2 separate regions of the Homo sapiens genome follow, and region 2 is linked to region 1. Evidence: fine-mapped expression QTL. Tissue or cell type: whole blood. Region 1 holds a variant in brackets; the other region holds the start of a gene. All regions are shown on one strand. Distances are from middle to middle.

Evidence for each region. PIP is the estimated chance that this variant, and not a neighbour inherited with it, causes the effect.
Region 2: CACNB2-AS1 starts here. The variant in region 1 is fine-mapped to the expression of CACNB2-AS1 in whole blood (INTERVAL, PIP 0.93).

Annotation. Positions count from the first base shown.
Region 1 is chr10:18,505,307-18,520,951 of GRCh38, forward strand. CACNB2 (calcium voltage-gated channel auxiliary subunit beta 2) reads left to right here. Exons shown (of 14, transcript NM_201596.3): 6 at 1,165-1,241; 7 at 8,930-9,063; 8 at 13,030-13,110; 9 at 13,604-13,662. It overlaps CACNB2-AS1 (CACNB2 antisense RNA 1), which reads right to left. Exons shown (of 3, transcript XR_007062076.1): 2 at 9,096-13,524; 3 at 7,310-8,354. Among named protein-coding and RNA genes, the nearest start is that of CACNB2-AS1, 26 kb to the right of the region's middle. The variant T/A (reference allele first, on the strand shown) is at 8,463.
Region 2 is chr10:18,535,056-18,550,700 of GRCh38, forward strand. It overlaps CACNB2-AS1 (CACNB2 antisense RNA 1), which reads right to left and starts at 4,221. Exons shown (of 3, transcript XR_007062076.1): 1 at 4,139-4,221. CACNB2 (calcium voltage-gated channel auxiliary subunit beta 2) reads left to right here. Exons shown (of 14, transcript NM_201596.3): 12 at 1,046-1,141; 13 at 3,125-3,310; 14 at 4,175-8,502. The coding sequence ends at 4,669. NSUN6 (NOP2/Sun RNA methyltransferase 6) reads right to left here. Exons shown (of 11, transcript NM_182543.5): 10 at 13,057-13,182; 11 at 10,506-11,090. The coding sequence ends at 10,878.

The sequences.
Region 1 (15,645 bases):
ACTGCCAGAAACTGCTTCTATAGATATCACTTGTCATTAATTTCACATACTGTCTGATGCCCTTATTAAATGTATTTGAGTATCTCTTAAGAACCTTAAAAAGATATACAGCCCTCCTGCTAATTGCCTAATAAAGTTTTTGATGTTTATGCATTAAAATGCTAGAACAGTAGCAATAACATTCAGCCTGTTACTGATACTTTAATAAAACTTTTATTTCCATATTAATATTTACGTAAGTAAATATTGCCCTTTGATGCATAAACACTGTAGCAAATTCTTTCAACTAGACCCTGGCTCGGCCATAATAATAAACATTAGGCAGTGAGATCATTTTGCCCAAATGTAAAATGTTCTTCTTATCTTCATCTGAGAGAGGGGTCATTCGGTAACACGTTATTTAGCATGCTAGTAGGCTGGTGAAAAACACAAATGCTGTTGTTCTAATATTAACTCCAATGTTTCTGAGACACTGCAGTATATCATATCAAACTTTCAAATTTGGTAGTTCGGAAATGTATGATCTTCAAATTATTCCTAAATTAACCACGTTTCATTCTCCACGTGAGTCACGCTTGAGAAGTATTCTGGGTACTATCTGATGGCTACATCATATCATATTCTGTTTAGTCATGTTTCTTCGTGTGTCCGTTAGTGGTTGGCAAGTTTTCATATGGCTCTGTTGTTCTTTGATAGATTGCTCATGAAAGCGTGAGTGCTTTCAATCTTAGTGTACTATTAATAAAATAAGCCTAAAACAGAGGAGCTGAAACCAAACAAGAAGGAAATATTAATCTTGGGTGTTAGCCTTAAGGTTCTGTGCATCGCCTCTGAGGGTCTCTAAAATAAAAAGCAAAATAAATCTGTGCTATTTCACTGTCTGTGATCTGGGCAAGTAACTTGGGGGCTGCAGAAATTACACTGGTTCTCTTCCATTCTCTCAGGTCCTTTTAAAATTAAACCTTGAATTTGAAATCAGAGACCATCATGTGGCTATTTCAAGTACTCCAGGAATCTCCACTGGGAAATATTGTTTTCCTCCTTAAATGAAAGATAAATTTAAAGTTGAATAAAACCATAATGAATTATGTTTACTGAATAATATAAATGTTTGAGGATGCGAAATAAGTGTCAGATTTAATAGAAATTTTTGCTTTACTCCAGTAAATCAGGAGGAAATTCATCATCCAGTTTGGGTGACATAGTACCTAGTTCCAGAAAATCAACACCTCCATCATCTGGTAAGTAGGTGATAAATGCTGAATAATACATACTGCATTTCATGCTTTCCCCAGCTCTATCCAGTTTTGTGAATTTACGTATACACTGAATCACTATGTTAACCCTACAGATGTTAAAAGGAATCAGAAGTGAGCATGCCCTTTTGGAGTTACAAACAATATGGGGAAATGTTTTTTTCTGGCTGGAAAAAGAAGTATGTCAAAGTGTTTACATTGCTGTAGATGATCAAAGTGATTAATGTATTTATTTATTTATTTATTTATTTTTTTGAGACAGAGTCTCACTCTATTGCCCACGCTGGAGTGCAGTGGCATGATCGCAGCTCACTGCGCCTCTGCCTCCAGGGCTCAAGTGATCCCCCCACCTCCGCTTCCCAAGTAGCTGGGACTACAGGTGCACACCACCATGCCCGGCTAATTTTTGTATTTTTTGTAGAGATGGAGTTTCACCATGTTGCCCAGGCTGGTCTCGAACTCCTGAGTTCAAGCGATCCACCTGCCTTAGGCTCCCAAAGTGCTGGGTTTACAGATGTAAGCCACTGCACCCAGCCATATTAACCTTTAATCCCTAGTTCCTGCGATGGTGCTTGTCATGGGCAGTAAATGGGTGAATACTTGCCAACAACCATAGCACAATGTGAGATATAACCTTAACATTAAACAGAAGGATAAAAACTTTAGAAAGGTAAGGAACAGAGGGTAAAGTGAAGATAGAGGATTGGCCTGTTGTGGGCTCTACCAGAAAAGTTCTGTGGAAGACACAGACAAGAAGTATAGAAAAAAGATGAAAATGTGTGTGGGAACAGTAACTACTGTTTTCTTTCCAAAGCAGTGGGTTCATCCTAATGGTTGCTGGATAAAATAAAGCACACCTACTTAAATTTGAATTTCAGATAAACAATAATTTACTAGTTTAAGTACATATTGCATGGGGCATACTTACACTAAAAATGTATGGAACATACTTATGCTAAAACATTGTTTTAAATTCAAATTTAACTGCATTTATATTTGCTAAATCTGGGAACTCTCCTATTCTGTGTAGAACATGGAATTCTATATAGACAGGAGACTAATGATTTGAATTGCAAAAAAAAGCACATGATCAGTATCTTAGTTTGCTAAGAGAATTGTTATTGGGAATCAGAGTAAGACTGTAAAGGTTGACTGCCAGGGTGTTTCAGCAAAATGATACTGTGTGTGATTTCTAGAAAGCTGGAAATGGGAAGAGATAAAAAACAGAGAGTTGTACAACTATGCAGAAATCAAAGAACTAGTCACACAGTGACTGATGTGCTTTAAGGACAGGATTTCTCTATTACTAATAATCAGCTTCATTCCTGAATGGTGGTGGCCTTTAGAGACCAATCAAGGACTTCTTAGCAAAAACTATAGGATTTTTTTTTTTTAAGAGAAGGGGTTTCACTATGTTGCCCAGGCTGTTCTTGAAACTCCTGGGTTCAAGGGATCCTCCTCCTCAGCCTCCCAAACTGTTGGGATGACAGGCATGAGCCACCATGCCCAGCCATTGGCAAACTAAGATACTGATCATGGGCTTTTTTTGCAATTCAAACCATTGTTCTGTTTATATAGAATTCCAAGTTCTACACAGAATATAGGACTTTCAAGTGAGCAAAATCTGAGCACAATAAATGAATTGCTTTAGGAAGCAAATTAATTTCAAAAACTATCTACTTATAACTTGAAGCAAGCAATTCTAAGATGCTCAAAATTAAGTAAAATAGTATGCATGAAATGAAAATGAAAGGCCCTGTAGGTATTATGTGAAACTTATACCTTCCCTTGATAATTACGGAGCCCCTGAATCCACAGAGGAAGGGAGGCCTATCCTGTTCCTTCTCAAATGTGTGAAGTTGCAGGGATTCCTATATAAACCTTACACTCTTATATATCTCAAAGATGATTTCAGTGATTTCTAGGGACTGCTACTAGGCTCTTAAAGTGGAAAAAGACTATGTCACCTTGCGATAAAGCAGCAGTTCTGCCTGCAAATGTCAGCCTCACTTCTTTCTATATACCAGAAAAATTCTTCCATTCCCTCCAGCCATATTGTAGCCCTCCAGTGGTTTTGGCAACACAGATGCTCCCCAACTTATGATAGAGTTACACTTCACTAAACCCATCATAAATAGAAAATATGGTAACTCAAAATGTACTTAACACGTGGACAGACCCAGTAAAAAGTCTGACGTCAAACCATCGTAAAGTTCAGACCTTGACTTATGATAAGGTTATGTCCTGAAAAATTTGTAATAAACTTGCACAATCTTAAGTTGAACCAGTGTATGTCAAGGACCGTCTGTATAGTGAAAGGAGGTGCTGCATTTTGAAGAACAAGTTAGTATACATGTAAAATAACATTCCATTTTGTAGGCAGATGTTTGACATTACTAAAAGTAAAGTTCCATGAAGAGTGTAATATTTAAAAAGGTGATTTAAATGTTCACCAAGGTTTTGTAGAGATACACCAACTTTCAAGTGACTTTTCTGGTGACTGAGTCACTTGGAGCTATAACCAACTACAAAATGTATAATAAGCATATTAGGACTCTGAGACAATTTTTATATCAATAGCTCAACTGATTTAAAGGAAAACTTCAGAAAGCTCGAAAGAGAAGTTCTCCCAATCCACCTCCAGGCACAACTGCTCCAACTATCAAGTGTGGATGGGTCTGTAATGATCATTTTCATCGTTTCCAAAGGTCTCATCTATTATTCTCCTCACTCATTGCCAGACCAAAGAATATAAGTATCTGCCTAAAGTATATATGCTTGGATGCTGTCAAGAACTTGGAAAATTTCCCACTTGACATCTGGGCATTGGTGTCATAGCCAGTTGCAGAATACATACATCGCACCCACACACACGTGTGTACATATGTGTCAAGCCCAAGCTCTGCTTAACTTGACCCAAACCTTTAACACCAAAACTTAAATTTCAAAAAATTGTTCTCGGTGCCATGGTCACGCCTGTAATCCCAGCACTTTGGGAGGCTGAGGCAGGAGGATCACTTGAGCCCAGGAGTTCAAGACCAGCCTGGACAATGTAAGTGAGACCCCGTTTCTAAAAAATTAGCTGGGTATGGTGGTGTGCACCTATAGTCCCAGCTACTTGGGAGGCTGAGGTAGGAGGTTCACTCGAGTCCAGGAGGTTGAGGCTGCACTGAGCCATGATTATGTCACTGCACTCCAGCCTGGGCCACAGAGGGAGACCCTGTCTCAAATAAATAAATAAACAAACAAACAGAAAAAATGTTCCCAAGGCTCTCTATCACTAATAATAATATATGCATGCTAGTGAGGAAGAATGAGACTTTTCAAATATATGAAAGCAGTTCTTTCCAAGTAAATACTAATGTTTGCTAAAGCATGGAAATATAAGTATGAAATTTAAAAAGAGTAACATTTCTCATTAAAAGGAGAACCATCTGAGTCTAATAAAATACATGTAGCTGAACAGATTTGAAAATGCTTCTTAACTGCCTTGGTAAGTTTCTTTAATATGTTTTGAAAGTGACCACATGTTTCAGAATTCTACGTATTTCAAAATGAACTCAGATGTTTTTAGACCTGAGTTAACCAAATGTCAGAACTAGTACATTATAGAAAGTTCTCAATTTGGGATATCCAGCCCTCATGTCCAGATACAGGTAAATTTCAAACCTGACTCAGGCTATGTGTGTGGAAAGCCAAACACCTGGGCAACGTTGCAGCCAAAGATGTATACGTTTCCACTCTTTCTTTGTTTTTTTTTGAGATGGAGTCTCACTGTCACCCAGGCTGGAGTGCAGTGGCACAATCTCAGCTCACTGAAGCCTCCATCTCCCAGGTTCAAGTGATTCTCCCACCTCAGCGTCCCAAGTAGCTGGGATTACAGGCACCGGCCACCACACCTGGCTAATCTTTGTATTGTTAGTAGAGACAGGATTTTACCATGTTGGCCAGGTTGGCCTCGAATTCCTGACCTCAAGTGATCCACCCACCATGGCTTCCCAAACTGCTGGGATTACAGGCATGAGCCACCATGCCCAGCCTCACTCTTATTTTAAAAAACAAAAATACAACTGATGATCACAGCAGGCTAGATTCAATGGGCAAATCACAAAATTCAACTCATGAACTTGACTGTCCAAGGGTCCTGTAAATTCTGACATCCAACTGGTTATCTTCATTTTAGGAGAGCCCTCAAAGGGTACTATCCCTTGAATGTGGTCTTTATGAGCCCAATAAAAGATGAGAAAGATAAAACCTGTGGGAATTTACCACCAGCAAGGAAACTCTTGATTTTGGTTAACATGTATTGTAGGAATAATGAATTCCTGACGCAGATTTTGTCCTTCATATCCAGGAAAGCGCTGACAACATGCTGCTTGAGTTGAGATTCAAGGAAAAACATTTCTGAAGAGTTTTCTGAGACTCTTGCCTGGCTTATGCCATTCAATAAGCCCCATAAGGAAACTTTCCTATATGAGCAAAGGATTAGCTATAGGATGGTATAAAAGTCAGCACTGGATAAAGCCCTAGGCACATTTTATGTTTTCTCTACATACCACATGTTAAACCTTTTAGCACATCAGTATGCATAGATGGGGCAAAGAGGAAGACATACTTACTATATTAGGTCTACGTAATTAGGACTGAATTAATTCCATTATTACCTTTTTTTTGATAGAAAATCATACCTCCTGCATTATGCAAGCAATAGCTGATTATTTGTAATAGTGTACAAACAATGGCAGGTATTCACTCCATCACAGGTTTCCTACCTCACCAAATGAAAAGGAATAATTAAATAAGAGAGCCTAGTTTTCAAAAGGCTGCTTCATTTAATATTCATAACAACTTCAAAACTGAAAAATAATGTAATGCCTGTCAGATGATCTTCCATCCTTTGAAAAGGTTAGAAGAAGCTGCTGTGAGCAGTTCAGCTTGTGTATCCCAGGGAATGGTAGCTGTATTGTAACACCAAGTTGTCTGTTATTTCAAACTGGTAATTTGTTCCTTCCTTCAATCTAAATGTACTGTGGTTTTTGTTAGAGAGCTAACATGTATAATATGATGCTTTCCTGCAGTGAGTAAATTTTTTTTCTTCTCCTTGACTGATTCTTAACCGTAGAATAATTTTCTAGCTAGTCCAGCTCTATGATGTCATCCTGACTCCTGACATCAAGGACATGACCCCATTGAGGATGTGAAGGGAACTGAAAGAGGGCACCCAGATTGAGAAGGGACTTCGCCTGGATGGGCAGTGTGGTATAGGGACGGTTACAGACTCATTTAGGTGGGCACTGTGGTATACGGAGGGTTATAGACTCACTTACGCAGGAGGAGTAGGTCTGAATCCTGACTGCCAAGTTTTTGCCAAGAACAAGTCCCTTAAATTTTGAGTTTTTTAATCTTAAAAATAAGAGCCTTGAAGTTGATCTTTATTTCCATCTCTGACTCTGCAGTTGATAAAATTCTGTAGCTATTTCAATTGCATGTGGAAGGATTTTGTAAAATTTGAAGTGAGATTATGCATCTTTTTTTCTTGTAACACTTTTTAAGTACTATATTTTCAGGTGGAACAATGGGAAAAGTAAATCATGTCAAGCAACAAAGCTAAACCTTTCATTTTACAGATGAGGAAACCAGTGGCATATCCTCTTGGGTCCTCGTGCCCTTCCACTCTGCCTCTTTTGTTAAACCCAGTGGCTTTGCATAAGTCACCAGAAGTCTTCCAATGTCATTTTATTAGACAGATTTCACTCGGATATCTTGGGACCCAGTGTTTTCCCATTAGTCTTCATCAGCCTAAAATCATCTTAATCCTGTCCTTCCTGGAGCCCTCCCTGAATCATTGGCCTTGTGTATGACTCCTTTGCATTGACTGGATTGAGAATTTTCCATTCTCTCTTTTTCTCAAATGTCTGTTGCAATTTTAGGGAAACTTTTCACACTGTCCTTATTTTTACACAAAATCTGCAAAAAGAAAAATCTTTTTTTGCACATTGTATTGTTGGTGCAAATGTAATTGCGGTTTCGGACCATGGATTTTAAATGATAACTAGGCCTAAATACATCTTTATTAATCAAAATAGGAAACACTACAATCAACACATTTTTGCCAAGGAGAAATAAGTGTGTTTATTCCTGTAGCATAAAACTCCATGCTTTGGGATTCGGCAAACTCTTGAAAAGCACTTTCTGCATCCTGCTGGTTGTGGAAGAATTTTCTCTGCAAAAAGTTGTCAAGATGCTTGAAGAAATGGTAGTTGGTTGGCAAGAGGTCATGTGAATATGATGGATGAGGCAAAACTTCGTAGCCCAATTCATTCAACTTTTGAAGCGCCGGTTGTGTGATGTGCAGCCAGGCGTTGTCACGGAGAAGAACTGGGCCCTTTTTGTTGACCGACGCCGGCTGCAGGTGTTGCAGTTTTCGCTGCATCTCATCGATCTGCTGAGCATACTTCTCAGATGTGATGTTTTCGCTGGGATTCAGAAAGCTATAGTGGATCACACCGGCAGCAGCCCACCAAACAGTGACCATAACCTTTTTTTTTTTTTTTTTTTTGGTGCAAGTTTGGCTTTGGAGCTTCTCAGTCCAACAGCTGAGCTGGTTGTCAGTGGTTGTCATATAAAATCCAATTTTCGTCCCACGTCACAATCCGACTGAGAAATGGTTCATTGTTGTTGCACAGAATAAGAGAAGATGCTTCCAAACAACAATTTATTTTTGCTTGGCTCATGAGGCACCTACTTATTGAGTTTTTTCACCTTTCCGATTTGCTTCAAATGTAGAAAGACCATAGAATGGTCAATGTTGAATTCTTCAGCAACTTCTCGTGTAGTTGTAAGAGAATCAGCTTTGATTATTGTTCTTGAGTAGTCGCTGTCAACTTCCAATGGTCAGCCACTATGCTCCTCATCTTCAAGTCCCTCGTCTCCTTTGCAAAGCTTCGTGAACCACCACCGCACTGTACGTTCATTAGCAGTTCCTGGGCCAAATGCATTGTTGATATTGCAAGTTGTCTCCACTGCTTTACGACCCATTTTGAACTCGAATAAGAAAGTCACTCAAATTCGCTTTTTGTCTGACATCATTTCCATAGTCTAAAATAAACATAAACAGCAAGTAATAAGTCATTAGCAAAAACGCATAAAGCGAGAAATGCGCATTAAAATGATATATAACATAACCACATTTATTTAAGAATGTAT[T/A]CCAATATCAAATGGCAAATTCCAACAGTGCAAAAACCGCAATTACTTTTGCATTCACCTATAATAAAGGTTTTCAAAGTAGTTGTTTGTTATCTCAAAGCTGGTTTAAGATATTGTAATGAAGTCAAATGTTCTGTACTGCACTTTTATACAGTTGATACAGAGAAAATCAACATTATATTTGAAACTACAGATTTAAAATGTTTCTCTGAAAATATTCAAGACGTCTAGCATGAAACTGATTCATTCAAGCAAACAGATTATAAGTGTATCTTTCAGTTTCATTAGATTTGATTACCTTGCATTCTTAATGTGCCTTACCTTTAAATTTAATTTTCTTGCGTACTGTGTTGAGCACTCATGATAGTTTTTTTTACTATGGTTAGTTTTATTTGCTTTCATTTTATTTTCTTTATAACCTATTTTTCCTCTCCTGTCCACCTGATTTTTGAATTGTCTGTATATAGCTATAGACATAGATGCTACTGGCTTAGATGCAGAAGAAAATGATATTCCAGCAAACCACCGCTCCCCTAAACCCAGTGCAAACAGTGTAACGTCACCCCACTCCAAAGAGAAAAGAATGCCCTTCTTTAAGAAGGTAACATTAACTTCCAAGCTCCCATTGTCCACCTGCTCAACTGCACTGCGTCACATTTCTAGTCCTGTTGACTGTCTGCGTCCTTTGATAAGCCAATAACGTGCATGCTCTGTTATTTGTTTCTTTTCCATGCTGCTGTAGCTAAGCAGAAGCAGAAATCGGTAAGTTTACATTGACATAAGCTGTGTTTATCCTGCCACTGGCATCATTAGCATTAATTCCCACAGTTGTATTAAATACAATCATTTCTGTCCCAAGCAAAGAACCTATCAACAGCTAATTGAGTTCATGCATTTCAAACCAACTAAATTCAGGGAGTGACCTGTTAAAACACCATTACAGTACTTATCCTTTTTGATGGAATAATATCTACCACCAAGGGAATTTGTTTCAACATTCAGGGATGTCAAACACTGACAGCTCCACATAATGCACCTAAATTGTGCATGCTTATTCTATCTCTTTCTTTTATCCAGAAATTTAACTTATGATCAAACATATTAAAGCAGTTATTAAATTCTGACTTATGATATCCAGATACATAGCTTGTACTAAAAAAAAAAGTATTCAAGTTTTAATTTAGTCAGTATTTAAACTTCTAATCCACTAGGTGCAAAATCTGCAGATGAACAAGACCAGTGGAAAACTGCAGGCTTGTTTTGGCGGTTTACTGTGAGTTTTTCCTATTGTCATATATAAATATTCTCCCGATGTTCTTGCCTTCTCCATCAGTCAGATTTTACCATCTCACCCTTTGGACAGTGCAGCCAGTGGTCATGCGTAGAGCCTTTGCCATTGGCCATCCAAGATGCTACACAGCGAGGCTCCTTGTCCCCTAAATGGAAACTATAGGGTATTCCTGAGCTCTCCTTACTTCAGACAAAGCCTTTTCCTCACCCATTTTGTAGCTTTAAAGCATTATTTTTTAAGGACCACTAACCTCCCCCCAAATTTCCCTTTTTTTCCCCTCTTTTACCCATCAGTTTCCACAGCTACCATGCTGTCTTTTAGAATCATACTAATGTCGCCAAGTCTGGCAAAACCATGGATATATTCTCACACGCAGATGTGATGTCAAATCTGTCTATCCTCTGCCCCCAAACTCTCCACATAATGAACACTTTTCCTCTGCAAACATGTATTTTGGTTTGTGGAGGAACTCAAGTCATTAATGAGGTGTCAGATACAGAACTGTAAAGTTGGCTTTTTTTGAATCAATTATGATTATTTTAATAAGGGAAAACTTCAGCACTCTGGGCAAAAATTGCAACACTTGGATTTTTGTGTTAACATAGCCTCAGCTTGATGTTCACCCACAACAGTGGGCCCATTTCTGGGGTCCGATCTTCTTGTTACAGCTAAAGCTTGCAGCCAAGTGACTAACAGTGTCTATCATTCAGAAGCTTAGAAAATCGGCATCGCTAAGACATTTGGGCCTTGACGGAGCAGGAATGTGAGCTAAAACCCTGTTTGTCAAGATAGGTTTGTGAAGTTTGCTTACCTTTAAATTCTAAAACTTTAAAAACTTTTATCACAATTTTTTCACTAAATAATTTGAGCAGGCAGGGCGCAATGGCTCACACCTGTAATCCCAGCCCTTTAGGAGGCTGAGGCAGGTGCATCACCTGTGGTCAGGAGTTTTGAGACCAGCCTGGCCAACATGGTGAAACCTCATCTCTGCTAAAAATACAAAAAATTAGCCTGGCATGGTGGCAGGCACCTGTAATCCCAGCTACTTGGGAGGCTGTGGCAGAAGAATTGCTTAAACCCGGAAGGCGGAGATTGCAGTGAGCCGAGACCATGCCACTGCACTCCGGCCTGGGCAACAGAGCTAGATAACTCTGTCTCAAAAAAAAGAAAAAAAAAATCAAGCTAAATGGGGTTAACAGGGAAGAGTAGATAAAAATGATGGCGTCATTCTTCATAGGGCACAAAGCACCAATATTCCATCAAATAAGGTAATTTCTGTAGCTACCCTATTGATTAAGAAGCTGATTGATTACCAGCAACGGGTGACCCTTTGCTAGTTGGCAGTTACAGATCGAAGGAACCAAAGACCTATCAAACACTGGGCCACTTCAGAATTAAAGTCTTGAGATAAAATTTCTTGGTAGCTGTTACTAAAATGCAGGAAATTTACATTCATAATTTCAACGGTGGAAAAGGTGTTCTTACACCGCATAGTTATCAGGACTTGGCTTCTAAACGTTTTCAGTATGATCCCAGGTGGTATAAATGAAATAGTTTAAGAAATATGCTTATGATGCCTTCGGCACTGGTATTCATTCTTCTTATGTTATTGATAATGTGGTTAACATCAATGTAGAATTCAAAAACAAAACAACAGCCTGAGATTCAATGAGAAGATCGTTTTCTATGTTTTAGGTTGCTTTTAGAGTGGTGCTTGTGTGGTACGTGTGCTGTCACTGTATTATGTTTGTCTTGTTTTTTTTTTTTCTGTTCAAAACTGTATTCTACCTTGATTGTGTCAATTAAAATTAATTCTGAATGCTAGGTGAAATTTTAGGCAGTGAAATTTGACAGCACAGTCATGGTAATATTTTTCTTCCCTCTGATTATATCGTCTGTGACTACGGGTAAAATCTCAGATGGAAGCTTTTGAATTTGAAATGCTTTTTAATTCTCCCCTGAGGCAATGTGAATTCAAATGAAGCCAGAAAAGTTTGTAATGGGCAATTTTAAGCAACAATAAAATGTTCTTGAGTGACGGGCAGATGCAAAAATGACATTCATATCTGCACATCAGTGTACTGAATTCTTAAAATCATTTACAGAACATTTTTCTGTTGGTGTGTGTGATTCTCAAGTTATATTTTTTGACACTCCTTAGCCAGAAAGATTCATATAGCAATGATTTGCTTATCGCAGTGTCTAAGGCCATATCACTCTTATGCATTTTTTTAAAAAGTCATTTTTGGGTCAATTTAGCATTTTATGCTATCAAAAGAGCCAATTTTAATATAAACCAATTTGCTGTTACCTAATTTTTGGAAAGATGTTATTTTACCATTTTATTTGAAGCAATTAACCTGAAAAGTGTTGACAGTTTTAGAAATTGCTACAAAATTTAGCTCCTCCCCTCTTATTAAAAAGAAATAATTTACTGCAGAAAGATGTCATTAGTTATCTGACAGAAAACTACTTTTGAGAATCATATTAGATATGCACATTGATAATGAACCTTTTGAGACCACAATAGCATGGTTGAATATATTATTATACATTAATCACCTTCCCTCGAAGACACATAAACCTTACCTTTGAAGTACCAAGGTATAGAAACCAAAAAATTCAATAGCATTAATCACTAAGCTGTGAGCAGGGATCATGATTACTGTTTACTAAAATAAGCATGCATGTTCATTTAAACTCTCACAATAATATAGAATTTTGACAGTAGTGAGAGTTACAATATTTTGAGATTAGGTAAAAAGTATTGGTAGTGAGAGTTATAATATTTTGAAATGAGGTTTTACACAGGTAAGACAAAAACCTAAGATGCAAAGGTAATGCAATCTTTCTTTCCTCTGTAATTAACCATGTTAGGTCTAATCACTACAACTCTTTAGAAAATTCAAATGCAGCCGAAAAGCAATATTAACTTCTAGTCAAGCCTAAAGCACCTATCTTGCATGAGGCATGTTTCTCTTTGTTCTGTCAACTAGTTTTTGTTCAAAAGCAGCATCTCTTGCTTTAGGAACGAATAGGTCTGTAGCATTTCTTGAGATGAGCAAGAAGACTGTAGACAACAGTAACTTGAAACTTCAGGAAAATGAACCCACCAATCTTTGACTGGGTTTATGTAGAAAAGAGGCAAGTGGGGAAAATAAAATGTCTGGAAAGCCAGTGCCTCATATTATGGAGTTCAGAAAGAGTACCTTATACACAAAATATTTATGTTCTACCTGCCTGTGAAACGTCTAAAAGCCTCTCCTCTCTCTGCAGACAGAGCACACTCCTCCGTATGATGTGGTACCTTCCATGCGACCAGTGGTCCTAGTGGGCCCTTCTCTGAAGGGCTACGAGGTGGGTAGCAGCCTTCCACAGGAAGCTTAACTTGCATGCTGAACTTCTTTGTGATGCTGCCTCCTACTCCCGACCCTCTCTCTGAATTTTACAGCTTAAGGAGCCAACTTTAGAGCTTAGAGAGCTCACAGCAGCAAAGCCTGTTGTTCTGCAAACTGGTATACACTGCTTCGTCCTTTTTCTGTTTTGTTTACCTGGCTGTTGCTTTGAAGATTTCTGCTAGCTGCAGTGTACTCAGTCCAGGAAATAGTGTCAAATGGAGACCGACTGAAACCACTTGCAATGTTATTTGTCACTAAAACATCATGATAAGTTCAGTTTAATTGTCATTGCATCAGAACTCAGAAGCAGAAAAATGCGGCAACCTCATATTGCCACTCTTTCCAGATGCAAAGCTCAGGTTTTCAAGCATTCCTAAGAGAAGTAAAATTGTTTTATCATCGTTAGTAATTTTTTTTGGTCATATCTTAATTTATTGCTTGCTCAATTGCAGGTCACAGATATGATGCAAAAAGCGCTGTTTGATTTTTTAAAACACAGATTTGAAGGGCGGTGAGTATTTCAGCATACTGGGTTTTGTGGATTTTGTCTTAAAGATGGCAAAACGCTGGTGGGACATGCGTGTGATTCCAAGAGAAAATGGCCCTCTGATGTCTATATGATGACAGGAAACAAGTTTCACTCAATTTAATCTGATTCAATCAATATTTATCATATTTGCTTGGTACATCTTTAACCCCTGATGTCTAGTTCCTGTACCTACATCCATAAGCTGACCTTGGGCAGGACACCACTGGCCAGTCTCACCCTCAATTCATGGTCAACTGGCCCTCTATTGCTGCCCAGGCATCGCACTAAATATCCCTCTTCCATTCACTTTTCCACTCTTCTAAAAGACTTCTGTGCCATCTCCCCCTCCTTAATCCTCTGATAACCCCTTCTCATCTCACGCTCCCCCAGTGAACTTGCTTCCGTGTCATTGAGAAAATAGAGGCAAACAGAGAACATCCAGGCATTTCTACAACCCCGCCTGTGGAGTTGCATGTTTGCCTGCATGCTCTGCTTTATCTCCAATGACTATGTTCCCAGCAAGGGCCAACCCACCATGTGGGCACTAGATCTCATTCCCCATCCCCTCTCTGCTAGAAGTATCCATACAGAGCCGTAATCATCCTTTGCTCTCTCCTCATGAGTATTTCCTGTTCTAATGGAAACTCCATCACCATGTAAAAATGTTAATTCCTATCACATTGACCTCATATTGCTCTAGGTGTCTCATTTTTTTTTCTTTTCTTTACAGGAAGATTCCTTGAAAGAATTGAGTGTACTGGCTTTCCTTCCACTTTCTTCAGCCTACCCCAGTTATGTTTTCACCCACACCACTCAGCTAAACTAGTCATGTCAAGATCACCCATGACCTTCACATTGCTAAATCCAGGGATAAATTTTCAGCCCTAATCTTACTTGACCATGAGCAGTAGTTGACATGGTGGATTATTCCATCCTCTTTGAAATACTTTGCTTGGTTTCTGGAACCACACTTTTCTGGTTTTCCTTCTATCACACTGACTGCTCCTTTGTCTCCTTTGCTGATACTTCCTCATCAACTGGAAATCTTGGACAGCCCAGGGCTAAGCTCTATGATGTCTTTTACCTACATTTCTTTAGTGATTTCATTCAGCATCAGATTTTTAAATTCCATTCCTTTGCCAGTCTTTCCTCTAAATTCTAGACCCATGTATACAATTGCCTATTCATTATCACTACTAAGATGTCTAATGGACTTTTCAAATGTAACCTCCCCCAAAACTTACTCCTCCCATGGTCTTCCCTATCTCAATTAATAGCTTCTTCGTCTTTCAGTCCCGAGACCCTTCAGCCCAGATCATTTTCCTTGACTGTTCTTTCTCTCTTATATTTCACATGCAAATGCTGTTGTCTTTATCTTCAAAATATATTCAGAATCGAAGCCCTTCTCACACATCCTCTGCCACCATTTTGGTCTGAGACATCTTCATCTCTTCCCTGGATTGGTGCAACAGCCTCCCACCTTGTCTCCTTGCTTCTGTGGTTGTTCCCTTAAAGCCTGTGCTCAGGTTAGCTGCTGCATGACCCTGTTAAGATGTGAGCTAGTGCCCACCACTCCTTTACTCAAAACCATCCAGTGACTTCTTTTTTTCCTCTGAATGGAAACCAAAGTCCTACAGTGGCCTACATGACCTCCTATGGTCTATTCTTCCACACGTCCTTACCTAGATTTTCTCTTGCTGCTCTTCCCTCGCTCATTCTCACCCTGCCGTACTTACTCCCTTGCTGTTCTTTGAGTGTTCCAGACAGATTACACAATCACCTCAGGGCTTTGGCACTTTGCAGTTCCTTCTGCTAGGAACACTTTTCCCTCAGATATTCTCCTTGGTATACGTGTGTACATGTATGCACACATACACATGCACACATTTGTTCTGTGTCTCTCCTTTCCCTCTGTTTTCTAGTGCTCTTTTATGTATTTCCAGTACTATTTTTGTTTATTGTCAT
Region 2 (15,645 bases), 30 kb after region 1:
GTAATATTAATGAATATGATGTTTTAATAATGTATAATGAAATATGTCAACATTTGGAAGATCTGAAGTCAGTGAACCATTATTGTTTGTATGATCAATGAATAACATTAATTTTCAAGACAGACCAATGGAATGTCATGGAGTAAGAAAATTGCACTGCAGGTTCAGATTCCACATAACAAATAGTCTTTAAGGAACCACCATTTGTTGAGTTTTAGTGTAGTATCAAAGAAGACTATACTAAATTGTTTCTCCTTTTCTCAATTACAAATCTGTAGGAGGTTGGATTTTCTTCACGTATTTCAACCAAAACATGACATTGCAGCAGGTTGACTGTAGAAGCAAACAGGAGACTGCAATTGTCTTCTATGAAGCCAGCCAGCCAGCCATTAGAGAGATGTGTAAAAATGTAGCTATTTTTATTAAAAAAAATTCGGCCGGGCGCAGTGGCTCATACCTGTAATCCCAGCACTCTACTAGGCTGAGGTGGGAGGATCATGAGGTCAGGAGATCGAGACCATCCTGGCTAACACAGTGAAACCCCGTCTCTACTAAAAATACAAAAAAATTAGCCGGGCGTGGTGGCGGGTGCCTGTAGTCCTAGCTACTTGGGAGGCTGAGGCAGGAGAATGGTGTGAACCTGGGAGGTGGAGCTTGCAGTGAGCCGAGATCGCACCACTGCACTCCAGCCTGGGCAACAGAGCGAGACTACATCTCAAAAATATATATATATATATTTTAACATGTATCAGATTTATTGTGAATTTTTAAATAAATGTTTTAATAGTTTTCCATTTTAGCTTCTTTAAAGAGGTTGTGAGATAAAATGTTTGAGAGCTGCTAGCATAGAAAAAATGTGAGTGCTTAAAGCTTGCAACTGTGATTTATGTTAACATGTTAATTTTGCAGATAATCTTATAGCTCCATCTATTATAAGCCCCTTGTGCTGTATATAAAAAGGCCCCAGAGAAAGGAGTCAATAATGTACCTTGTACTTTACCTGGATGTAGTTATTACTCTGTTAAAAACTCATTATCTTTTACAGGTTTTACAAAGGTTAATAAAATCTCGAGGGAAATCTCAAGCTAAACACCTCAACGTCCAGATGGTAGCAGCTGATAAACTGGCTCAGTGTCCTCCAGTAAGTTATCTCTATATACAGCATAATCCAGTTACAGAGATCAGACCTTTTTTTTTTTTTTTTTTTTTTTTTTTTTTGGGGGACAAGGTCTTGCTCTGTTGCCCATGTTGGGAGTGCAGTGGTATGGTCTTAGCTCACTGCAGCCCTGAACTCCCGGGCTCAAGTGATCCTATTGCTTCAGCCTTCCAAGCAGCTGAGACTATAGGTGCATGCCACCATGATCGGCTAACTTTTTTTTTTCCCCCTGTAGAGACGGGGTCTTGCTATGTTGCCCAGGCTGGTCTAGAACTCCTGGCCTGAAGTGATCCTCCTGCCTTGGTCTTCCAAAGTGCTAGGATTACAAGCATGAGCTGCCATGCCTGGCCAGAACTGGCATTATATTTTGAAAAAAACAGTCAAACACCTGTCAGGGAAGAGAATCCTCATCACTTACAGTGGTATTCATTCCAAAGTAAACTGTCCTCCCTCCTTCCATGATCATGTGTTTTGAGCACAAGTAATCCAAACGATGATCATAGCTTACCAAAAGCTTCCGTACATCCTGCAGTAACTTCACTTTGTTAATATCCAACACAAGATCCTGGTTCCGAAAATTTGGCTTGTATGATGAGTCTATTTGGAGTTGGTATATTATTCATTTCTGATCATAGGGATCAAGTTGTCTGCTCTTAATAACTGTCTGAGACATTTATTTTCACATGGTCTCAAATCAATTTCTAAGTAATAAGTTACCTAGATTCTCACTTGTCGTCTATGCTTTACATGCAATGCCTTGAGGTATTAGAGCTTTCCTAGGTTTAGTTTTGGAGGCAGGGTCTTGCTTTGTTGCCCAGGCAGGAGTGCAGTGGTGGTGTCTCAGCTCACTATTGCAACCTCTGCCTCCCGGGCTCAAGTAATCCTCCCACCTCGGCCCTCCAAGTAGCTAGGACTACAGGCAAACGCCACCATGCCCTGCTAATTTTTGTATTCTTAGTAGAGACGGGGCTTTGCCATGTTGCCCAGGCTGGTCTCAAACTCCCGACCTCAAGTGATCCATCCACCTTGGCCTCCCAAAGTGCTGGGATTACAGGCATGAGCCACTGCACCAGGCTTTTTTTTCTTTTTAAGCATAGCCATTTCAGGGTCTATAAATATTTGATTGCTTAATATATGTTAAAATTTATAATAAACACTAAAAAATCTTTTGAAAAGTGGCATTATTTTCTTCTCTACTGAACTACTGTGAAGTTTGGACAATGTCAAAATTTCACATCCTAATCTTACCTTATTAATTTCTAAATTCAGATTTCATAATCTTGGGCCGGGCATGGTGGCTCATACCTGTAATCCCAGCACTTTGGGAGGCCGAGGCGGGTGAATCACTTGAGGCCAGGAGTTCAACACCAGCCTGGCCAACATGGCAAAACCCCATCTCTACTAAAAATACAAAAATTAGCAGGGCTTGGTGGTAGGCACCTGTAACCCCAGCTACTTGAGAAGCTGAGGCAGGAAAATCACTTGAACCTGGGAGGCCAAGGTTGCACTGAACCAAGATCAGGCCACTGCACTCCAGCCTGGGTAACAGAGTAAGACTCTGTCTCAAAAAAAGAAAAAGAAAAAAGATATCACAATCTTTATGTCAAGAACAGGCTTCTTCCTATTCTATTCTATTCTGTTCAAATATATATACATCTCTTTTCTACCATAGTATCTATGCCTTTTTCATTGCTGATTGATAGACAACTTTTCTGGGTTGCCATGTCCTTAACAACTGTTACCTTTCTGGCCATTATTTATTAGTTAAGCATTCAGTGCCCTCAACAATGATTTGAGGTAGTCAGACACTTCCTAACTAAATAAAAAGGGAGATAGTAGCAGCACTTATAGAAGCAGGAGCAAGTACAAAGGGGTGCAGCTCATGAGCCCCTTCCTCCTCTTATGGAGGTGGGAAGGGGGTGAAAACTGGGCTGGCATCAATGTGGTCTGGAATGTCTGCCTCTGCAGGAGCTGTTCGATGTGATCTTGGATGAGAACCAGCTTGAGGATGCCTGTGAGCACCTTGCCGACTATCTGGAGGCCTACTGGAAGGCCACCCATCCTCCCAGCAGTAGCCTCCCCAACCCTCTCCTTAGCCGTACATTAGCCACTTCAAGTCTGCCTCTTAGCCCCACCCTAGCCTCTAATTCACAGGTAAGGGGAGTTTTTATATATATCTATATATACAATCTTCATAGAAAAAAGGTTGCCTATGGTGACACCTCTAGGATCCAAGCCCAGTAGCCTGCTTGGGGCTTGTTCTAGTATATTAACTCAAAGCAAGTCCAGCATGAGCTGTGTATGTACCTGTAAGAAAAGCACCATCAACAGAATATATTGGGAACATACACAGACTACCGAAACTTTCTAAACAGTAGCATAGACTGTGGAAGTGGATCACCTAGATTCAAATCCTGGCTGCACCTCTTACCACTTGTGGGGTGGATAACCTGGGGCAAATTTCTTAACTGTTCTTACCTCAGGAATAATAATGGCAACCTGTCCAAGAGGCTGCTGGAATTAATAATCTCAAGAGATGATCTTATAGGGCTGTTGTATTAATGAGTTATTATATACAAAGGGTCTACAGAACAGTGCCTGTCCCATACTGTATCACTGTATCAGGTAAGCATTTGCTATTTTTAATATTCTCACATACAGTCAAGCAGAGGTAGTTAAGTTTACACCGCTGTATAGAAAAATCTCAGGGACCTGCATCTGTATTTGAGCCACAGGAGAATAAATAAAAGAACATTTTCCCTGCTGCTGCTTTTTTTTTTTTAAAGGAAAAAGTTACCATGGGCACTGTTCTAGGCACTTACAAAAGTCCAATTTAATATAGTATAGTATAAAGCCTTATAAATGCCACTGGATGTTACCAAAGGGATGAAGCTAGGTTAGACTTCATTTCAGCTTTTCGGATGCTTAAAAAGGACTCTGCTTGAATGCACTTGCTCTGGGACATGTTCTTTACACACTGACCTTGGTTAACGCCTGGTGTGCTCCTTTCGCTGCCAGGGTTCTCAAGGTGATCAGAGGACTGATCGCTCCGCTCCTATCCGTTCTGCTTCCCAAGCTGAAGAAGAACCTAGTGTGGAACCAGTCAAGAAATCCCAGCACCGCTCTTCCTCCTCAGCCCCACACCACAACCATCGCAGTGGGACAAGTCGCGGCCTCTCCAGGCAAGAGACATTTGACTCGGAAACCCAGGAGAGTCGAGACTCTGCCTACGTAGAGCCAAAGGAAGATTATTCCCATGACCACGTGGACCACTATGCCTCACACCGTGACCACAACCACAGAGACGAGACCCACGGGAGCAGTGACCACAGACACAGGGAGTCCCGGCACCGTTCCCGGGACGTGGATCGAGAGCAGGACCACAACGAGTGCAACAAGCAGCGCAGCCGTCATAAATCCAAGGATCGCTACTGTGAAAAGGATGGAGAAGTGATATCAAAAAAACGGAATGAGGCTGGGGAGTGGAACAGGGATGTTTACATCCGCCAATGAGTTTTGCCCGTTTGTGTTTTTTTTTTTTTTTTTTTGAAGTCTTGTATAACTAACAGCATCCCCAAAACAAAGTCTTTGGGGTCTACACTGCAATCATATGTGATCTGTCTTGTAATATTTTGTATTATTGCTGTTGCTTGAATAGCAATAGCATGGATAGAGTATTGAGATACTTTTTCTTTTGTAAGTGCTACATAAATTGGCCTGGTATGGCTGCAGTCCTCCGGTTGCATACTGGACTCTTCAAAAACTGTTTTGGGTAGCTGCCACTTGAACAAAATCTGTTGCCACCCAGGTGATGTTAGTGTTTTAAGAAATGTAGTTGATGTATCCAACAAGCCAGAATCAGCACAGATAAAAAGTGGAATTTCTTGTTTCTCCAGATTTTTAATACGTTAATACGCAGGCATCTGATTTGCATATTCATTCATGGACCACTGTTTCTTGCTTGTACCTCTGGCTGACTAAATTTGGGGACAGATTCAGTCTTGCCTTACACAAAGGGGATCATAAAGTTAGAATCTATTTTCTATGTACTAGTACTGTGTACTGTATAGACAGTTTGTAAATGTTATTTCTGCAAACAAACACCTTCTTATTATATATATAATATATATATATATCAGTTTGATCACACTATTTTAGAGTCTTAATGCCAAGTCAGCAGATTTGCTTTATGAATTACAGGGACTAGAAATGCCCACATTCAGGAAATTTGTAATAACATTGTCTAGACACCTATCCTCATTCTAGTAGAAAGTGTGTACATACTGTAAATATGTGTGATTGCTTGACTTGAAAAGGTTTGAATTCTGAATGTTATACCATCCTTGTAAGTAAGTTTGTAATTTCCACCATAAATTATGGTAAATATAAAACTCCAGAGGTTGTTCTACTCCATACAGTTCACACTGATTGTGACACATTCTTAGTAGCTAGTGTCTGTTCTAGTCACTGCACTGGAGTCTACGAGCCGGAACTCGCTATATGCACGTGTGTGTGTCCGTATGTAAGAAAGTGTGCACCGAGTGACTGAATGGTTGAGATGAATTGGAATGCTGAAGACTAACGAAGAAACTAGAGACTGATATCGAGCATTCTGCCCACCTCGCTCTGTATTTAATTAATTGTGCTATATGTTGCTTTAACAACCCATTGAGCAGTCAGGGAATGTGAGTAAGCTTGCTGCCAAAGGTAACTAGGAAAGCATTCATCTGCTGCCTCCTTGTTTTTGCTCCTAGAGAGTGAAAATACAGGCAATTTTACTGTGAGTGTTTCACTGGAAATGTACAATCTTTGTGTGTTAGAGTATTTGTTTTAGTAAGAAATGTTTACACAGCTTGTGGAATTATTTCGTGGGAAAATAAATTTTTATAACTTCTCCCACTTCAATTTCTAACCTTGCCTATTGTTCCTGTTGTTTGTTTACCTCCCAGTTACCTACCATTCCTCCCCACCACCGACTCCAGCAGGTTCACTGTCTGTCAGAACCCAGAAGTGCTTCTTATAACCAAAGTTTCTGTTCTTCAGAAGAAATCAGGGCAAAATGGGGTGACTTGAAGTGAATAAAATGTTAAGAATATTATCCTACATAAGACATGTACACAGAAGGGGAACCTTGAAGACATTATCTCCATGCCTCAATTACACTGCTGTAAGAAGCTTACAATGTCATCATGTTTAAGGCTAAGACCTTTTCCGTGTCTCAAGTGTATATTTTGTCCAGTTATAACTGGATGGTAAGACAGTATTAAGAGTGCAAGTACCTGGCACTTGAAGTTTGTCCCAGGAAAATGCCTGTGTATAATTACCTAACTTCAGATCTGCACATTAACTTATTTAACAAAATAAATCAGCCGGGCGCAGTGGCTCATGCCTGTAATCCCAGCAATTTGGGAGGCTGAGGAGGGTGGATCACCTGAGGTCAGGAGTTCAAGACCAGCCTGGCCAACGTGGCGAAACCCCGTCTCTACTAAAAAGATAAAAAATTAGCCAGGTGTGGTGGTGCACACCTGTAATCCCAGCTACTTGGGAGGCTGAGGCAGGAGAATTGCTTGAACCCAGGAGGTGGAGCCTGCAGTAAGCCAAGATCACACCACTGTACTCCAGCCTGGGTGACAGAGTGAGACTCCATCTCCAAAAAAGAAAAAAAAACAAAAAACAAAAAAAACTATCCAGCAAAATTATAAAATCTACTTTGTTTTGCTTCCTTGATTATTCCAAGTTCTTACCAAATATTCTTAGCCTTTTATAAGTAAAACTGTTTTACATTTAACTCCTTATTTCCCTTACCCCCAAGAAAACGCAATATTAAAAATGATTAAGCTGGGGTGGTAGAGTATACCTGTAGACCCAGCTACTTGGGAGGCTGAGATAGGAGGATCCCTTGAGCCCAGGAGGTGGAGGCTGCAGTGAACCGTGACTGTACCAATGCACTCCAGCCTGGTGACAACCTGGTGTTTAAAAAAAGAAAATAAAAATTAGTTACATATATAATGTTTTATCAGCTTATATATGAAAAAATTTCCCTCAGTTCGTTAATTAGCCCTACACTGTTTACATAAATTTATTTACTGAGTATAAAATCAGTAGTCATAATAAACTTGACAATTCTTACATTGGTAGGAAACCATATTCTAATTAAAATTGAATTTATAAAATATTTCTGATAAAACTTTTGTCATGGTAAGAGATTCACAATTATTAGTTCAATCCTTTATTATTTCATCCCAATTAATGATTTTAGAATATTTAAATTCTTGAAACATAGCTAGTATTTATCTTACTTGCTGCTATCATTAATCCCTTTCAAAAAGTAGTGGTGAGAGTTTCCATCTTTTTTATTTTGTATCTAGATTCTTAGCTTGCACTTTACTGTAGAACATATTAGTGCAAATCAGAATATTCCTCAAAGAACTAGCTTGAAGGATTTGACATAAGAGCCGCTATATGTGAAAAACTGTATAGTGGACATATGTGTAAACTGTGTAGTAAATCTGTAAATGAGGAAATAATCTCAAGGGCAATGGGATATTTACTGACCTGCGGAATGTAAAGTTACAGTCTTTTCACACAACAAAGGCTTAACCTTAACCTACTCAGTTGTAGAGCCATTTTTGTAGTCAACCTAGAAAATGCTGGAAATGTATTTAATAGTTTTTTTTTTTTTTTTTTTTGGTCATATCCATTTCAGTCTTTCCTATGCTCTTTCTCTACTGCTCATTTAAGTTACTGTTACAAAAAGGTGCTGCTAAATGTAGGATGTCTTAGTCATGTTGTACTTTGGGACAATGCCACATTTTTAACATGGTCTGCTATGCATTCCTGTTAAACATTCACTGTCAGCTACACTGAACTGTCTAACAAACCTGGTTTAAAGTAATTCATATAAAACAAATAAAGAGCTGGCTTCTGCACTGTTTATTAGTAGTAGTATTAATTGCCATGTTAGAAATGATTCATGTAGTTGAGACTATATTAAATATTCAACACTTCCCAGCTGCAGGGCATCTTTCTTGGGGCAATGCTAAATACTTTATGTTCCTTTAGTAATCTTCCTATTATGTCTGATTAAAAAAAAAGATACCTCCACGTAGATAAAATATTTTATTCAACGTGAGCTCTAGCAGAATAATCTGGGTCAGTTATGAGTTCTGGATCAAGAGTTTAATTTCTGCTGCGCTGTACTTTTAACTATTTGTACTTTGCTTCATTATTTAAAACATGACACAGGGTTTTAAAGTAAATGTACTCACTGTTGAACTTAAGTACTTCTTCTGTTTCATAGAAATGTTAATATTAAATGTTAAAATATATATTAATTTTCCCTCACATTTCCCTGATTTTTTCACCTTATTGCATTTTTTTCTTATACTGCTATGTCCCATAAGTTTATGTGATTTTCCAGTTTGCTTAAGTTTTTGAAAGGAAGAAACCCACTGAAAATTAGCTCTGTTCAAGGAAAAATTCTGAATAGTATTCTTTGTCCTGTTTCCAATATGTAAATACTTTTCTTCTATTTACTGGCATTGGTTGTATTTTGATATTTGTTGGTATTAATCAAACATTTACACCAGTAAAAGTTTGTTGCTAGGCTGATTCTCTGCCATTTTCATCCCAGCTTAGCAAATAAGGATGTGCAGCAAGCATTACAGAAAATGATTTTTGTAGAGTTTCTTAAAAGACATTTAAAGTTTAAAGAGGTATGCTGAGCCCTAAAAAGATAAGTCCCACAGGAAAAGTGTTTCTCTTTAGTCAAATGACAGCTACTGGATATAAGGCAGAATGAGGGATGTAAGAGAGACACATGTTTGCTTGAAATAATTTTTCTCTCAAACAATAATCATCTATTGACTGTTTGCTCTGAAGCTGTGACAGAGAAACGGCAGGACAGGGTCTCTGCCTGGAGGATGTTTCCCAGGTGTGGGGCTGGGGCTTAAGGTGCATGGCTAGAAAATTTGAATGAGAGTGTCGTAAGTGCCAGGAGAACATTAGATGTGGGAGCCAGGGGCACAGAGAAGGGGAGCAGTGCCTATCCAACCTCAGGGAAAGGTATTCAAGAAAGCCTCCTTTAAAGAAGAGGCAATCTAAAGGTCTTACCTGATCCAAGAGACCTTGCAATCCTTATGGATACAATAAATAGTTATGAGAAATTCCTAAAGAAAACCTGTGGAGGGCGGGGCGGGGGGGCGGGCGGAAATCAAACTATTAACCAATTGTCCATTTCTTAAGCCCAAGGCCTAATAACTTTTGGGTGATTTGAATGAAAGTTAACAAAACAGTATGATGGATTTAACACCATGAGACAGCCTTAAAACTATGGCTGGGAAGTAAGTATTCTGATTGATCTAAAAAGCCAATAGGAAGGCAAAATCCTAAGGCTGTAATGTTTTTTTTAAAAGCTGGCTGGGTGCAATGGCTAACATATGTAATCCCAGTGCTTTAGAAGGCCAAGGCAGCGGGACTGCTTCAGGCCAGGAGTTCAAGACCAGCTTGGGTAACAAAGCAAGATCCCATCTCTTTAAAAAAAAAAAAAAAAAAAAATTAGCCAAGCATGGTTGCACACAACTGTGTTGTCCTAGCTACATGGGAGACTGAGGCAGGAAGATTGCTTTAGCCCAGGAGTTTGAGGTTGTAGTGAGCTATGAAATCATGCCACTGCACTCCAGCCTGGGTGGCAGAGCAAGACCTTGTCTTTAAAAAGTAAAATTAAATTGAAAAGCAGTCACTTATTTTGGCCACTACAGTGGGATGCTTGATTTTTGCAATTCGAAGGATGATCTGCTTTTTGTCTGAATTCAGACTTGATTGTGGTCTTTTTTTGTCTGGATCTATGATAGGTACGGCTGCCTTGTCTGATGTTGGGGATAGGTGAAACTGCTTACGTTCAACAGGAGAACACCAAGGCCCAGCTATAAGGGTCAGGTCAGGCCACTTCCCAGCTGCCAGAGCTGGTTTTTTCTTTCTCACCAAGCATTTTCTAATAACTGATATGTTTCAAATACATGATAAGTTATCCAAATTGTAGAATAATCTCATTTTCTAAATCTACAAAGTAAAGAAAATACTAACTTTACTTTTTCGTTTAAAATTATGAAAAACATTGAACATAGACTACCATTTAGACTACGATAGTCTTTAGACTATCACTTCACACTATCATTCAGAGGAGGTCCAGACTTCATTTGAAAGGGGGTTGACTTACTAAATAAGCAGACAGAGAGTCAGGTAAAATACTTACCTCCATTATTGGCACATAGTCAATGTTTTACTTCCCATGCCCTGAATCCTTAAGAAACTAGGAACCTAGAAACAAAAACAACTTTTCATAACCACATCAAATATTGCTAATTTATTCCTTTTGTTAGATTCACTAATTTTTAACATTAAAAATGACTTGTACACTTTACAAATTAAAACATTAGATCACAAATGAAAATATGCTCCAGACATCTATAGGCATCTGCTTTTCTTTATACTCTACTAAATACATAAAAAAAAAAAATCTTTTAAAAACAGAAAATATAATCTCATACCACCCCCTACTTCCTCTATGTCTCTGGATCCCTGGTAAAACAGCTGGCAGCCTTTTCTGTTTCCATAGCAACCACATCATCATTCAGTTGGCCTGACAACACTTTGGTTAAAAAAAAAAAAACCACAGACAGCAAATGTTTGGAATTTTCATTTCTGAGCATCCATCCCTCTCCTATGTGCTTTTGCATTTTACAAATTTTGCAATAAAAAAACCTATAGAGTCCTTATTAGCCAGACGCAACATGTCTTCTCTTCTGGCCTCTCTAAGAGAGTCCATGTCAGTGTCCGGTAATGGCACAGCCGATGGATCAAATCGCTGCAGCTGTTTCAACTGTTCACATGAGAGCCCAGCTCCCCTCATTCCTTCTCCTCCAATCTGCGGTTCCTGTTTGGAGAAAGTGGATCAATATGGATGAACATCCTGTAATTAGCAAGTATGACTGCTACAATTTAAGTTAAAAGACAAATTGGGCTGTAACGACTACATCTTCCAAAAATAGAAAAATGAGTAAATGCCTTTCATTTTGGTGGAACATACGTGCTGCTTTCCAGACAGTAAAGTAGGAAAGCAATACTATGCGTCACCTGATGAACAAATACCTATTATTACATGCTTATCAAACACTGTGACATTATCAAAGGCCTGAGCTTCCTAGTTGGAAACAAGTGGACTCAAATTGCAGCTCTACCACATTTTAGCTGTGTGACTTTAGGTAATGTTAACTAACCACATTTCCTCATCTATTAAACAAGGCTTAAGTAACGAAGGTGGTATCACACCTGGCATATAGCAGGGACTCAGTAAATGGAACATTATTATCAATAAAGCAGCAAAGGCCAGGCACAGTGGCTCACACCTATAATCCCAGCACTTAGGGAGGCCGAGGCGGGCTGATTACCTGAGGTCAGGAGTTCAAGACCAGCCTGGCCAACAAGGTGACACCCTGTCTCTACCAAAAATACAAAAATTAGCCAGGTGTGGTGGTGCATGCCTGTAATCCCAGTTACTTGGGAGGCTGAGGCATGAGAATTGCCCGGGAGACAGAGGTTGCAGAGAGCCAAGATTGTGCCTGGGCAATCCAGCCTGAGCGACAGAGTGACACTCCATCTCAAAAAACAAAAAATGAAAGAAAAGAAAAGAAAAGAGAAGGAAGGGAGTGGGGACGGGGAGGGGAAGAAGAAAAAGAAAAAGAAAAAAGAAAAAAGAAAAAAGAAAGCAACAGAAAAAATTCAGCTTTATTTAACAGTTTCCAAAACTGAAAGGTGGTCTTTGGGCATCTAAGGTACCTCTCTCTGACCCATACCAGTTGGGCGAGAAAAGTTTCTAGAAAAACAAACATAAGAAAGGAAACATAATTTAAGGCTGTATCAATTAGTTTAGAGGAATCATAAGGCATTGAATGATACTTGCAAACTACTGAAGAAGATCTATAATCCTAAGTCACCATCACAGACAATCATCTGCATGTTAATGAAGATAGGTTTTCAGACATATACTTAAGAAAACAGATCGTTTATTATCCCATGGAGGTCAGGGGAAAACTTCCCATCCCTTTTAGGTATATATTTTGAGTGTGTGTATATTTCCAAATGAATTCCGAAGTCTTCCTTTCATCTACAATGTAATTATCTTAATTTACGAGACTAGAAACCATCTCTGAATTGTCTTTATTTATGTATTCCCATTACCTAATTTCTGTATAGAAAGGTACTAAAGTTAGATGCTCAATGTATCTGAATGTATGCGAGCATTATTACAGATTTAAACTTAATCTCAAATATCCTGGACTAAAAATTGAATCAAAAATACATTTCTAATAAAGACCATAACATAAAGAGTTGTGTTAGGTAAAAGAAAGTATAGCAAAGCTTTTTAAATATTATACATTTTATATAATAAGCAATAATCCAGAAATACTTTTTTCCCTTTCAGCTGGTCTTCTGATATCCCACAGTTATTAAAGCTCATTTGAGCTTTGATGTGACATGAGAGAAAATGCTCAACATTTTCCATGTCAGAAAAATACAGGACTGGGAAGGAGAAAAAAATCTTTTTAGAAAAAAGGTGCCGAGTAACATGAATAGCTACAAGGGGAATAAACACATAACAAAAACACTCCCAAGCTCTGTGCCATTTTAACACAATGGCAGGAACAAAGATGAGAAAAAACTTTGTCAGGACATGCAAATTATGGGCAGTCTAAAGTGGATTTAATTAGATAAGCATTCTTGTTTATTACAGTGTTCACTTTGGAAGTTTTACTTATCTCTTCGTTAACACCCTGATTACCACAGTGCTTCAGTTTCTGTGATTTATCTTATTACACAGAGAAAAATGAAATTACTCCTACCTGGGGCTGAAGCTGAAGGCAAGGAAATTTTGTCAGGGCCCAGGCAACCTGTTCTTCATTTTCGGCCAGTGTTATAGTGCACGTGCTATAAACCAGCACACCCTCTGGCTTCAGCAGCTGAACCGCCTAAAGAAAACTGTGATCAGACCACACACAGCACAAGACCAGATAAACATATGAATGAATTTCAAAGCAAAAGGTATAATGTCTTTCAAATGTTTGGGATAAATAAAATGATGTTCTATGTGACAAGGATTCCTTCTGTAATTAGAGTATGCAAGAGCAACACTTGCAGCCTAGACTAGGTGCATTTCATTATCTTGGAACTGTCATACTCCAGATGGACCAAGACTTCCCCAAATATAATCATTCACCGTCATGCCTTTGGATACCATTTTTTATGCTGAAAACTCACAAATTTACATTTTTAGGCCACATCAACTTGTTAAATTCCCTACTTAAATGTTCAGTTGGCTTCTTAACATTTCTTTTTTATTCTTATTTTTTTAAATAGAGATGAAGTCTCACTGTTGCCCAGTCTTGTCTTACACTCCCGGGCTCAAGCAGTCCTCCCACCTTGGCCTCCCAAAGTGCTGGGATTGCAGGCGTGAGCCATGGGTCTGGCCCTTCTCAACATTTCTATAATACTATCAAACTTGACATGTCCCAAAATGAACTCCTACTTTCCCTCTGAAATCCACTGCAGAAGTTTTCCTATCTTTCCAGAATCTCAGGTCCCAAACCTCAGATTTTCCTTTATGCCTCTTTTTCTGACTCCCCCAAACATCACCAAGTCCTATTGGCTCTACCTTCACATTCTAGCCAGAATTTGGCCACTTCTCACCACTTCCACTATCATTGTGGTCCAAGCCTCTTTATCTTTTGCCTGGATTATTCCAACCGCCTCCTACTTCATCAACCTGCTTTATTCCCTGCCCTCCTGCAATCTAGTCTCAGTACAGCAGCCAAAGCAGTCCTTTTAAGCTTGTCTCTTCTCAGCCCCAAGCCCCTCACATGTCCTCCATGATCACTTACAGTCAAAGTCCTTACATGATCACTTAGAGTCAAAGACAAAGTCCTTACAGAGGTCTTTGAGGTCAGACATAAACAAGTCTCTTGTTGCCTCTCTGACCTCCTCCTGTACACCTCTTACTCTGGCCCATTTGACTTTGGCAACACTGGCCTCCTGCTGTTTCTGGAACACACAAGACACACTGGCACCTCAGAATCTTTGCAGCAGTTGGGAAAGCTCTCTTAATTCCCTGCACTGCTTACTCCTTATCTTTGCATGTATGTCACGTTCCCGGGCACTCTGTAGATTTGCAACTATTCCAATCCAACACTCCTATCCCCAGTTCCTTTAGCTTGCTCCATAGGGCCATTGCATTATTGCCTTCTAATATACTAAAAAACTCATTTATTTATTTCCTTTCCTAGTTAGAATGGAAACCTCGTGAATAAGGGCATGGAGTGTTTGTCCACTTTCTCAATGCTGTACCGTCAACATCTAGAATAGCGTCTTACATACAGGAGATCTATGAGTATTTGTTGAATAAATTAATCAGGAGATAAGGTATTGTGCTAAAATGGACTTGTCTGAAATACCTAAAGTTCAGCTTTTCAAGCTCCTAATTTTTAAAAATTTAAAGGAAATCTTTAAAAATAGAGTATACATACTTGTGCTTTTTAAATCAGAGTATGCTGATCAAAATTTAAACTTTGTTACTATGTGCCAGTTACTGTGTGAAACACTGTATATGAATTTTTCTCAATAAATCCTTATAACAACCACAAAGTAAGATGACTATCACCAATGAGGTATTCCTAATAGGTAGAGCTGTTATCCCTGCTACTCAGATATAGAAAACAATGTACCTAAAGTCACTTAGGTGGAAGAGCCATGGCTCAAGTCAACAAGGCTCAAGTCCACATTCTCGATTTCTCTCCATGCCAAATGGCAAACCTGCTATATTCTAGTTCTCTCTGATATACTGTCAGCTTTTCCTTCTCATTGAGATCATTCATCTACTCCTAGTAGCCTTTTAAAATACCATTTTTGCTGTGACCTAATAAGAACAGAAATCCAAGTCCTTTACAGAAGTATCCTAATTTTATTCTCAAGTCAAAGTGGGTTTCGGCTGTAACTAAAGTTTCCTTTTTGCTGCTTGCTGTTTTAATTCTGAGGATGAGTTCTTCGAAGACTTCATAGAAAAAGACGAAGTTAAATAATACACAACCAGTGCTACCTTTGTATATGAAAGGAAACACCAGGAGAGTTGAATCAGAATGTACTCAAAGGCAGCTTTAGAAACTAAATCATTATAGAACATCCATTGTTGCTCTAGCCTTGTATTTTGGAGGGCTGGGAGGAAATAATGAATTCATCTATGATCAAACACTGCCTATACACGCTGAAATCCACTGAGTCATTTTTGAAAGACTAGGAGAAATCCTCAAATGTTCTATCTGGGCTTCTGAAAGTGCTGGAGACAAGTTAAATTTGTACAGTTTTTATGGTTCTCCTATATCCTACGCTGGCCACTGTCTCTTCCTGTTTTTATCAATGAGTTTTGCTCCCTATTGGGCCTT